Linked DNA regions of Homo sapiens: region 1 is linked to region 2. A link means that fine-mapping ties the variant in region 2 to the expression of a gene that starts in the linked region. Tissue or cell type: whole blood. Region 2 holds a variant in brackets; the other region holds the start of a gene. All regions are shown on one strand. Distances are between the middles of the regions.

Region 1 (5,000 bases), 100 kb after region 2:
TCTCTGCTCTTGAACAGGTGCACAAAGGTTCTAAGGCCTGACATGCCTGCACTGGCTGTGTGACCCTGAGCAAGTTACTTAACTTCTCTGAGCCCTTCTATAAAATGGGGCTAAATCCTAGCAACACTGCAGGATTTCTGTAAACCTCAGTCTCCTAATCTCTACTATGGGGTTAAAATTCCCTACGTTGTAGGATTTGGTAGGCATTAAATGAGATAATGCATGTAACACATAGCACAGAATCTGGCAGGCAGCAAGAACTCAATAGATGTTAGTTTTTAATACTGTTATTATTATTATTGTCCAGGGCCAGGTGGCAGCTCATGCCTGTAATCCTAGCACTTGGGAGACTGACGTAGGCGGATCACTTGAGGTAAGGAGTTCAAGACCAGCCTGACCAACATGGTGAAACCCCTTCTCTACTAAAAATACAGAAATTAGCCAGGCATGGTGGTGGGCGCCTGTAATCCCAGCTACTGGAGAGGCTGAGGCATGAGAATCGCTTGAACCCGGGAGGCGGAGGTTGCAGTGAGCCAAGATTGTGCCACTGCACTCCACCCTGGGCAACAGAGACTCCGTCTCAAAATAAATAAATAAGTATTCTTATTATTATCCAAGTTAGGGGCTCATCAAATGATGGCTATTACTCTTCATTACAAAAATATGTTTTGCGTCCTCATCACCAATGCCTGCTTCCTCCATAGGAAGGGTGTGTGTCACCAATGCCTGCTTCCTCCATAGGAAGGGTGTATGAGCAGCAGTCTGGAAGGGGTATGTGGGGCTTGCCCTAAAGCTGCATTTGCATGGCATGCACACTATTTATTCTGAAACTGCATGTTTTTGTGGGGTGATTAGGGAAGAGGGTGGCTAACTCCCCCAAAGCCCTCCCCTTGTTGCAGCCCCCGCCTCCTCCAAGGAACAAAGGAGCTTATGGGGACATAAAGCCATCCTCTTCTCTCTCCTCTGGGGGCAGAGCTAGGGGAGGGGGAGTGGTAAATGGCAGCACAGCTCTAGGGCACCTGAAGTTTCTATCCCCTGCGTGGAGACTCCAAACACCAGGCTGGGGAAGGTAAAAGTAGCCTGTAGGGAGATGGACGCTGCAGGTCCCATCCGGAGGCCAGGTATCCCTCTCTTGCTGATAGCACTGAGACGCCCTCCCCAAAGCTCAGCCTTCTCGGGGAGATCGGAGGGGCTGAGCTGCATCCTGTCCAGCACTAAGTGAGAGTGGCCAGGAGGGCAGGCTGGCAGAGCTGTGAAAGCACCCACTTCCCCAGCTAGGCAGTGCAGGGGCTGGGGGAAAGCCAGGAAAAGCTCAAGGCTGGGTCGGGTGGCACCCCAGGCACAGAGCCCCAATGCTGAGAGGGGCTGGGTCCAGTGTCCCTGAGAGTCAGGCGGACGCCTCTCCGCATTCACAGCATACTGCAACCCCGAGGTGAATTTAGGTCAGAAGGACCAAGCCTGTGAGGCTCCGGCTGAGAGAAGAGGTGCGGTGGGGGTGGTCAAAGGGCAGACCGAAGACAGCCAAAGGTCCCCTAGGTCCCCACAACTGCTGGCCTAGGGTCCTGCCACCTGGTGTCCAAGCCACCAGGGCCTGGGTTTGCCCCGAGACAGGCAGGCTGCGGGGTGGGGGTGCTCCAAGTCCGCTGGTCCTCTCTTCCCCGGAACGCTCCAGATTTCCCCACCTGTCAAACGCGAGGGGCTGGGCCTAGGCCGCCTCCACGAACCCTGACGGACCCGGCCCCCGGTGACCCCGGTTCCAAACTCCAGGACCGCCCCTGCCACCCGGACAGGGCGCGGCCCAGCCGAGGAGGCCATCCCGAGGCCCAGGGCGCCCAGAGGACGCGGGGGAAGGGCTGTCGGGGACCGTGTCCCTCCACGTGGCGGGGCGTGGGGAGGCGCACGTGGGGTCCCTCCGTGTTGGGAGCCCCAGGCCAGCCTCCGGGCTTTGTGTGCCATGCCGGCGGCGGTCCCCCGCCTCGAGAGGGAAACGGAGCGGGCGCCCGGGGCCGCGGCGGCTGCGTCCCTTGCCCCGGGCCCGGCTACCGCCAGCTCACCTGGGCTCCGCGCCGCCGCCGCCTCCCGCGCTCTGCGCCCCCAGCTCGGCTCGGCTCGGCTCAGCTTGCTCTGCGCGGCCGCGCGCTCCTCTCCTCCGCCCGGGCGGCGGGCGCGCGGGGGGCGGGGGCGGGAGGAGCCGCCCGGCTCGGCTTGGGCGCGTCGCCGCCCCGGGCAGCGCGGGGATTGGCCACGGCGGCGGGAAACCCGAAAGCGGAACCGCCCGCGCCCGCCGCGCACCGCCCCCTGCGCGCCCCCGCCGGCTCGGCCCTGCGCCGGGGAGGGGTGGGGAGGCGGGAGCCTGCAAAGACGAAAGTAGCGAAGAGGCGAAGGGCAAGGAGCAGAAAGGGAGGAGGCGAAGAACGGGGGAAGAGAGGCCCGGCCGGGAGGATCGGAGGCGGCTGGGAGGAGAGCCTGGAGGGGCGCGGAGCGCAGGAGGTGGCGCCGCAACTTTGTACCCGCTCGCCCGCGGCGCGCACCTGCCCAGGTTCTTCCCGCGGCGCCCTCGGGCGGGCCGCGCCGGCAGCGCTTGCTTTGTTTAGCCAAATGCCGGGGCTGCAGGGCGCCTCCGGGCTGACCCTGGGAAAGTTCCCCCAAGCCGGCAAGAACACCCGGGGCCCCTCCTGTGGCGACCCGGCTGCTGCCCCTGCGCTAGGCGCCGGGCGGTGGATGCGGCCTGGACTTTGGGCCACCACCGACTCGGGGGAGCCCCCTTCCGCAGCTGCCTGCCGACTGACCACTTGCTCAGGGCCGGCCCTAAAGGCTGGGGGAAGGCGTTCCTCTCCCATCCCCAGCCCACCTGGATGCACCATTGAAGTTCATTCTGGCTTTTCCAGATGGCTACTTAGATGCTTTTTGTGAAATACAGCATATTCTTCCCATTCTCCCCTTTTTGGCACTTACTTTGCTGGAGCCTTAAGTGTGCGTTGGATCCCCCAGCTGGATAACAGCACTGTGCGGGGAAGAGGAGAAACGAAGACCTGGAGGGCTCCCTGAACCGTCCTACGGGGTCGAGCGACCCAGGGGATGTCTCACTGACCCTGCCAAACAGCCAAAAGGGAATCGAGTTGACAGGAGAGTCAACCTCCAAGTTAATAAAAGGTTCAAAGCCCTCTAGTTAACTGGGTGGATTTCCAGCCCGTTCCGATGTGCTTCTCTTGTATTTCTAGGCCGTAGGGACACTCACATGCAACGAGCCAATGAGAGCTCCACCCCGACTCCCTTTTTTTTTTTTTTTTTTTTCTTTTCTGAAACGGAGTCTCGCTCTGTCGCCCACGCTGGAGTGCAGTGACGCGATCTCGGATCACTGCAACCTCTGCCTCCCAGGTTCAAGCAGTTCTCTGCCTCAGTCTCCCGAGTAGCTGGGATTACAGGCGCCGGCCACCATACTTGGCTAATTTTTGTATTTTTCGTAGAGATGGGGTTTCACCATGTTGTCCAGGCTAATCTTGAATTCCTGACCTCGTGATCCACCCGCCTTGGCCTCCGAAAGTGCTGGGATTACAGGTGTGAGTCACCGCGCCCGGCCCACTCCCATTTTTTTTTCTTTGTTTTTTTTGTTTGTTTGTTTGTTTGTTTGTTTGTTTGTTTTGAGACAGGGTCTCTCTGTGTTGCCCAGGCTGGAGTGCAGTAGCACGATCACGGCTCGCTGCACCCTCGACCTCCCCAGGCTCAGGTGATCCTCCAGCCTCAGCCTCCTGAGTAGCTGGGACTACAGGCACACACCACCACACCTGGCTAATTTTTTCTATTTTTTGTAGAGACAGAGTTCTCCCTATGTTGCCCAGGCTGGTCTCAAACTCCTGGGCTCAAGTGATCCTCCTGCCTCTGCCTCCCAAAGTGCTGGGATTATAGGCATGAGCCAACATGCTCGGCCATCCACCTCTTCTGATGTTACTCAACGTGCATGCATTTGCTGGAAATGGCAAAAACCTGAGGCCGGGCATGGTGGCTCACGCCTATGATCCCAGCACTTTGGGAGGCCCGGGCGGAGAGATCACTTGAGGCCAGAAGTTCGAGACTAGCCTGGCCAGCATGGTGAAACCCCATCTCTATCAAAAATACAAAAATTAGCCCGGTGTGGTGGCGGTGCCCGTAATCCCAGCTACTCAGGAGGCTGAAGCACGAGAACCACTTGAACCGGGAGGCAGAGAGATCGCACCACTACCCTCCAGCCTGGACGACAGACCAAGACTGTTTCAAAAAAAAAAAAAAAAGTCTGGGCACAGTGGCTCACGCCTGTAATCCCAGCACTTTGGGAGGCCAAGGTGGGCAGATCACGAAGTCAGGAGTTCAAGTCCAGCCTGACCAGCATGGTGAAACCCCGTCTCTACTTAAAAAAAAAATGCAAAAATTAGCCAGGCATGGTGGCGCGCGCCTGTAATCCCAACTACTCAGGAGGCTGAGGCAGGAGAATCGCTTGAAACCCGGGAGGCAGAGGTTGCAGTGAGCCGAGATCATGCCACTGCACTCCAGCCTGGGTGACAGAGCAAGACTCCATCTCAAAAACAAAACAAAACAAAACAAAAACACAAAAAAAAAACCACCTGGGAACAACTTCCTATATGTTCATCAAAGGAATGGATAAATGAAACTCATTATAGTTGTTTGATGGAATACCATCTAATAGATAAAAGGGGTGCACTGGATCTGTACTGACATAAGGAAATCCCAAAAACATAATGTTGAGTAAAACAGCAAGTTGCAGAATACAACATGATGTACAATTTGTGTGTACCTTAAAATCCCATGCAGTAGATACTGTTCATGGACACATGCTTACATACAAGATTTTTAAAGTCAAAGAGAAGAATATACATTAAATTCATGACAGTGTGCCACAAAGAAGGAAAAAAGCACAGAACGGGACAGGGAGCATAAGGAATGTTGTAAAGTTTTATTCCTTTTAGTACTTATAAATGGCTGTGAGGCAAATGGCAAACTGTTAG
Region 2 (5,296 bases):
TGTGGCCCTGCACGGCAAGTGGGGTCTTCCTCCCCGAGCTGTGAGTGTGTGTGACCAAAAACTGCTGCCAATCTCATTTGCCCAGTGTTGGGTGTCATGTGTTCAGCTACCGCCATAACCCTGGGGTGGGAACTGGGAATCCCTCCCTCACCACTGAGGTAAAGAGGTTATTAAAACATCCCTACTTCAGCTGGGTGCGGTGACTCACGCCTGTAATCCCAGCACTTTGGGAGGCTGAGGTGGGTGATCACCTGAGGTCAGGAGTTTGAGACCAGCCTGGCCGACATGGTGAAACCCTGTTTCTACTAAAAATACAAAAAATTAGCCAGGCGTGGTGGCGGGCACCTGTAATCCCAGCTACTTGGGAGGCTGAAGCAGGAGAATTGCTTGAACCCGGGAGGCAGAGGTTGCAGTGAGCCACGATCACACCATTGCACTCCAGCCTGGGCAACAAGAGCGAAACGCTGTCTCAAAAAAAAAAAACACCCTAATTCCAGGCCAACCAGCAGCCCTAAAAAATTAATCTTCGTTTGGCTTCTACCAAAAGTCATGGTCTACACAAAGCCCTGCCTACTAGAGGCAATAAGGAACCATGACCACCACCCCCATTTATTCAAATTACCCACTGGAATGCACCGAGTGGGGTTTCACCCTCTGCTGCTTGTATGTTTCTCAACCCATGTTCTAATCCCATGCAGTCATCATTCAGGAATCCCTGAGGATCCCCTGATTCAACTTCTCTTTTTTGAATAGATTAGAAATTCCTATCTTCTTTCACTTTTACTGTGACTTTTCAGCTTCCTGTTTTCCATTCCTGAGGGCTATGAATCATATTTCCAAAATAAATGATGATCTATGGAGAGGATTTTGCATTTCCAACATCCTTAGCTAATTTTAATGAATTATCATGGTCACATGATCCTAAGGCTTCAGGAATCGGAGGAAGTGGCTGACACTGACTTACCATTTTAACCAAACAATCACTGCACTTAAGCTTGGATAAGGGTCAAATAAAACTAACAGGGCTCTTATGCAAGCCCTTCCAGTCTGGTAAGTTATGAGTATTTATGTTTTATTTCCCCCCAAAAACAATAAGACCCTCAGAGGCAAGGAACTCATCTTGGTTTTTGTCCCTTACACACCTATCTCAGTCCAGTGGTATGATGGGCACTGGAAACAAACCACCTGGTTCAAATCCTGGCTTGGTCACTTATTGGCCAAGTGGCCTGATATGGTTTGGCTGTGTCCCCACCCAAATCTCATCTTGAATTGTTAGCTCCCATAATTCCCATGTGTTGTGGGAGGGACCTGGTGGGAGAGAATTGAATCATGGGGGCGGTTTCCCCCATATTGTTCTCGTGGTAGTGAATATGTCTCACGAGATCTGAGGGTTTTATAAGGGGTTTCTCCTCTTGCTTGGCTCTCATTCTTGTTTTGCCTGCCACCATGTAAGATGTGGCTTTGCTCCTCCTTGCCTTTGTCATGATTGTGAGGCCTCCCCAGCCCTCCCCAGGTGACACATTGGAACTGTGAGTCAATTAAACCTTTCCTATATAAATTATCCAGTCTTTGGTATGTCTTTATTAGCAGTGTGAGAACAGACTAATACATGGCTTTGGGCAGCTTCTCATGTCTAGCCATGGTAGCTATTCTTATGATTTGGATGGTGCCCAAGCATTGCTCTCGAGCTCCAGGCCCATATATTTAACCACCTCCAGATATTCTATACTTAAATGGTTTAGAGGCAATTCAAACAGCTACAAAAGACAAATCATGATCTCAGTTCACCCCACCCACATGTGACTTCCAGAGCTCCCAAGATCAGCCAGTAGCACCACCTGCCATCAGTTCAACTTCCCAAGCCAGAAATTCAAAGGATACCTTGATGTCTCCCTTCTCCTTCCCCGTTCTGTCCAATCTCATCTGTTCATTCAGCAAACACTTACTGAGCACCCCAGCACTGTACAGGAGCTAGGGATGAACAGGTGAATAAGAGAGGCTCTTTGGGAGGTTAGGTGCAGTGGGGCAGACAGGCAATCACGGTGAAAAGAAATGCAGTGAGGACAGCTTGGGATACAGAGTTTGAAAGAAACAAGCAGGATGCTGTGATAGGAGCAAGGGAGTTACTTCTGACAAGGGGCAGGGATAGTGTCTCCAAGGAAGTGACATTTACACTAGATCTGAATATCAAGAAGGAGCCAGCTGTAATGAGTTGAAAGAAGGGCATTCCAGGAAGAGGGATGGAAAACATAAAGCTGAGGGGTGAGAGAGAAATAAGAGTGTTCCAGAGCCTGGTGCAGGAGCACACACATGTAGTCCCAGCGACGAGAGATCATCCCTTAAGCCCAGGAGTTTGAGGCCAGCCTGGGTAACATAGTAATAATCTATCTCAAAAAGAAAAAAAAAGAAAAGAAAAGAAATGAGTGTGCTCCAGGACCTGTCAGATGGCCAGTGCAACTATGCGGTGAGAGACACAGTCTTGCTTGTTTTCTTACTGCCTCCTAAACTGGGTGGTTCCATCTCACTGAAACAGACGCTCAAAGAAAGGCGAAATTCACAGGCAAGCACAGCCTTGGGAGGGTTATGAAGCTGGTGAGATGTAAGCGGGCCCTCACTGGAGGAAGGGGCTGGAAACAGTGGGATGAGAGGAGGCATTCCCAACAGGACCAGCAGCACAAGCCAGGCCCAGAAACAAATGACTATCATAGTGGAGGGAGATTAAATGGGACTGATTTGGGGAAACCTTCAAAAAGAAAAAAAGGCTGAGATGTTTGAACCAGTTGCAAAGTTAAGATGGAGCCGTTCTTGGGGCTGACAGAGGACATGAGAAAAGCAGTGACTTAAGAAATCCCAGCCGGGTGCAGTGGCTCACGCCTGTAATCTCAGCACTTTGGGAGGCCAAGGCGGGCGGATCATGAGATCAGCAAGTGGAGACCATCCTGGCTTACACGGTGAAACTCCGTCTCTACTAAAAATACAAAAAATTAGCCAGGGGTGGTGGCATGCACCTATAGTCCCAGCTTCTCGGGAGGCTGAGGCAGGAGAATCGCTTGAACCTGGGAGGCAGAGGTTGCAGTGAGCCAAGATCGCTCCACTGCACTCCAGCCTGGGTGACAGAGCGAGACTCCTTCTCAAAAAT[T/TA]AAAAAAAAAAAAAAAATCCCTCAGACCGACATGAGGACGTGGGATGGGAGGGGAAGCCTGGGGAAGTGACATCATTTAGAAGTCAGCTGGGATTATATAGGAGTGACTCAGTAAGCCACCTGTGCTACTGAATTGGTGGTGGTGATAGAAAGAAAAGGAAGAGAGATATATATATATGGGGGGTTTTGTTGTTGTTGTTGTTTTTTGGTTGTTGTTGTTTTTGTTTTTGTTTTGTAGAGATACGGTCTCCCTATGTTGCCCAGGCTGGCCTTAAACTCCTGGCCTCAAGCAATCCTCCCGCCTGGGCCTCTCAAAGCTCTGGGATTATAGGTGTGAGCCATCACCCCCAGCCTGGCTAAATGAATTTTTAAAAATTCCTCTGAGTCCAACAGGAGGAGATTGGTTAAGTAAATTATGGCACAGTCATATAACAGGAGGGTATGCAGCTATTTTAAATGATGCCATAGCAAGATAGTTAATGGGCCAGGCACGGTGGCTCACACCTGTAATCCCAGTACTTTGGGAGGCCGAGGCGGGTGGATCACGAGGTCAGGAATTCGAAACCAGCCTGGCCATGTGGTGAAACCCCGTCTCTACTAAAAATACAAAAACCAGCTGGGTGTGGTGGTACGCGCCTGTAGTCCCAGCTGCTCAGGAGGCTCAGGCAGGAGAATCACTTGAAGTCGGGAGGCAGAGGTTGCAGTGAGCCGAGATCATGCCACTCACTGCACACCAGCCTGGGCGACACAGCAGGACTCCATCTCAAAAAAAAAAAGAAGGAAAATCCGATTGATAAAAATCTACATTTACAAAAAAAGTAAATGGGAGGGGCGAGAGTAATTTTTCTTTACAAAGGAGTTCATAAGAAGATAAGATTCCTTCAAGAACATCTGAATGAAATTGTAAGAACTGAGTCCTCCTTTTCAGGAGCTTGTCTATGGAAGAGGCACAGGGATGCGCAGACCCTGGCTGTGAGAACACTTTAGAACTCTTCTTCGTTTCCTTATTTGCAAAAGAAAAGGATTAGGCTAAGCATGCTCTCTAAGGTACTTTTAAATTTTTTATTTATTTGATTTATTTGATTTTTTTGGAGACAAGGTCTCACTCTGTCACCCAGGCTGGAGTGCAGTGGCATGAACACAGTTCACTGTAGCCTCAATCTTCTGGGCTCGACTGATCCTCCTGCCTCAGCCTCCCAAGTAGCTGGGACTACAGGCACATGCCACCATGCCTGGCTAATTTTTTATGTTTTGTAGAGACGAGGTCTCACCATGTTGCACAGGCTGGTCTCAAACTCCCAGGCTCAAATAATCCTCCTGACTTGGCCTCCCAAAGTGCTGGGATTACAGGCGTGAGCCACCACACCCAGCCTGTAAGGTACTTTTAATCTCAAAATGTGAGGATGGGATGGGCACGGTGGCTCACACTTGTAATCCCAGCACCTTGGGAGGCCGAGCTGGGTGGATCACGAGGTCAGGAGTTCAAGACCAGCCTGACCAACATGGTGAAACCCCATTTCTACTAAAAATACAAAAATGAGCCGGGCATGGAGGCGGGCGCCTGTAATCCCAGCAACTCTGGAGGCTGAGGCAAGGAGAATTGCCTGAACCTGGGAGGCTGAGGTTGCAGTGAACCAAGATCACGCCAGCCTAGGTGACAGAGCCAGACTGTCTCAAAAAAAAAAAAAAGTGATAATGATAATAATCTCAAAATGCTCTCTCCATTGTATAAGATGAGACCAATTTGTACCTGACAAGTGCTTGGCAAACCACCCGTAGGTGTCAGTGAATGTACTGCATTAGCTAAGGCTGAAGTCCATACTCTGGCCTCGAAGGCCCTACTCGATCTGGCCTCTGACTGTCTCTCAAGGGGTTAGCTCACATCACTCTCCTCCTTGCCCACTATGCTCCATTCATATTGACTTTCCTTCTGTTCCTGGAACATATCAAGCTCATTCCTACCTCAGGGACTCTGCACCTGCTATTCCCTTTGCCTAGAATACTTTCTCCTAGGAAAAGTATTCAGAGAGCTAGCTCCTTCCTGACATCCAGATCTCAGCTCAGATGGACTTTCTCAGAAAGGGCCTCACTCAAGCTATCAAGCTATCAGATATAGAAGGTACATTCTTTTTTTTTTTTTTTTTTTTTTTTGAGATG

Evidence for each region. PIP is the estimated chance that this variant, and not a neighbour inherited with it, causes the effect.
Region 1: CAMKK2 starts here. The variant in region 2 is fine-mapped to the expression of CAMKK2 in whole blood (INTERVAL, PIP above 0.99).

The regions. Positions count from the first base shown.
Region 1 is chr12:121,294,584-121,299,583 of GRCh38, forward strand. CAMKK2 (calcium/calmodulin dependent protein kinase kinase 2) reads right to left here and starts at 2,126. Exons shown (of 17, transcript NM_001270485.2): 1 at 2,055-2,126. RefSeq lists a silencer at 1,662-2,811.
Region 2 is chr12:121,189,958-121,195,253 of GRCh38, forward strand. The region is part of intron 2 of LOC105370032 (a long non-coding RNA gene); the gene reads right to left. Among named protein-coding and RNA genes, the nearest start is that of P2RX4, 18 kb to the right of the region's middle. RefSeq lists an enhancer at 1-471. The variant T/TA (reference allele first, on the strand shown) is at 3,140.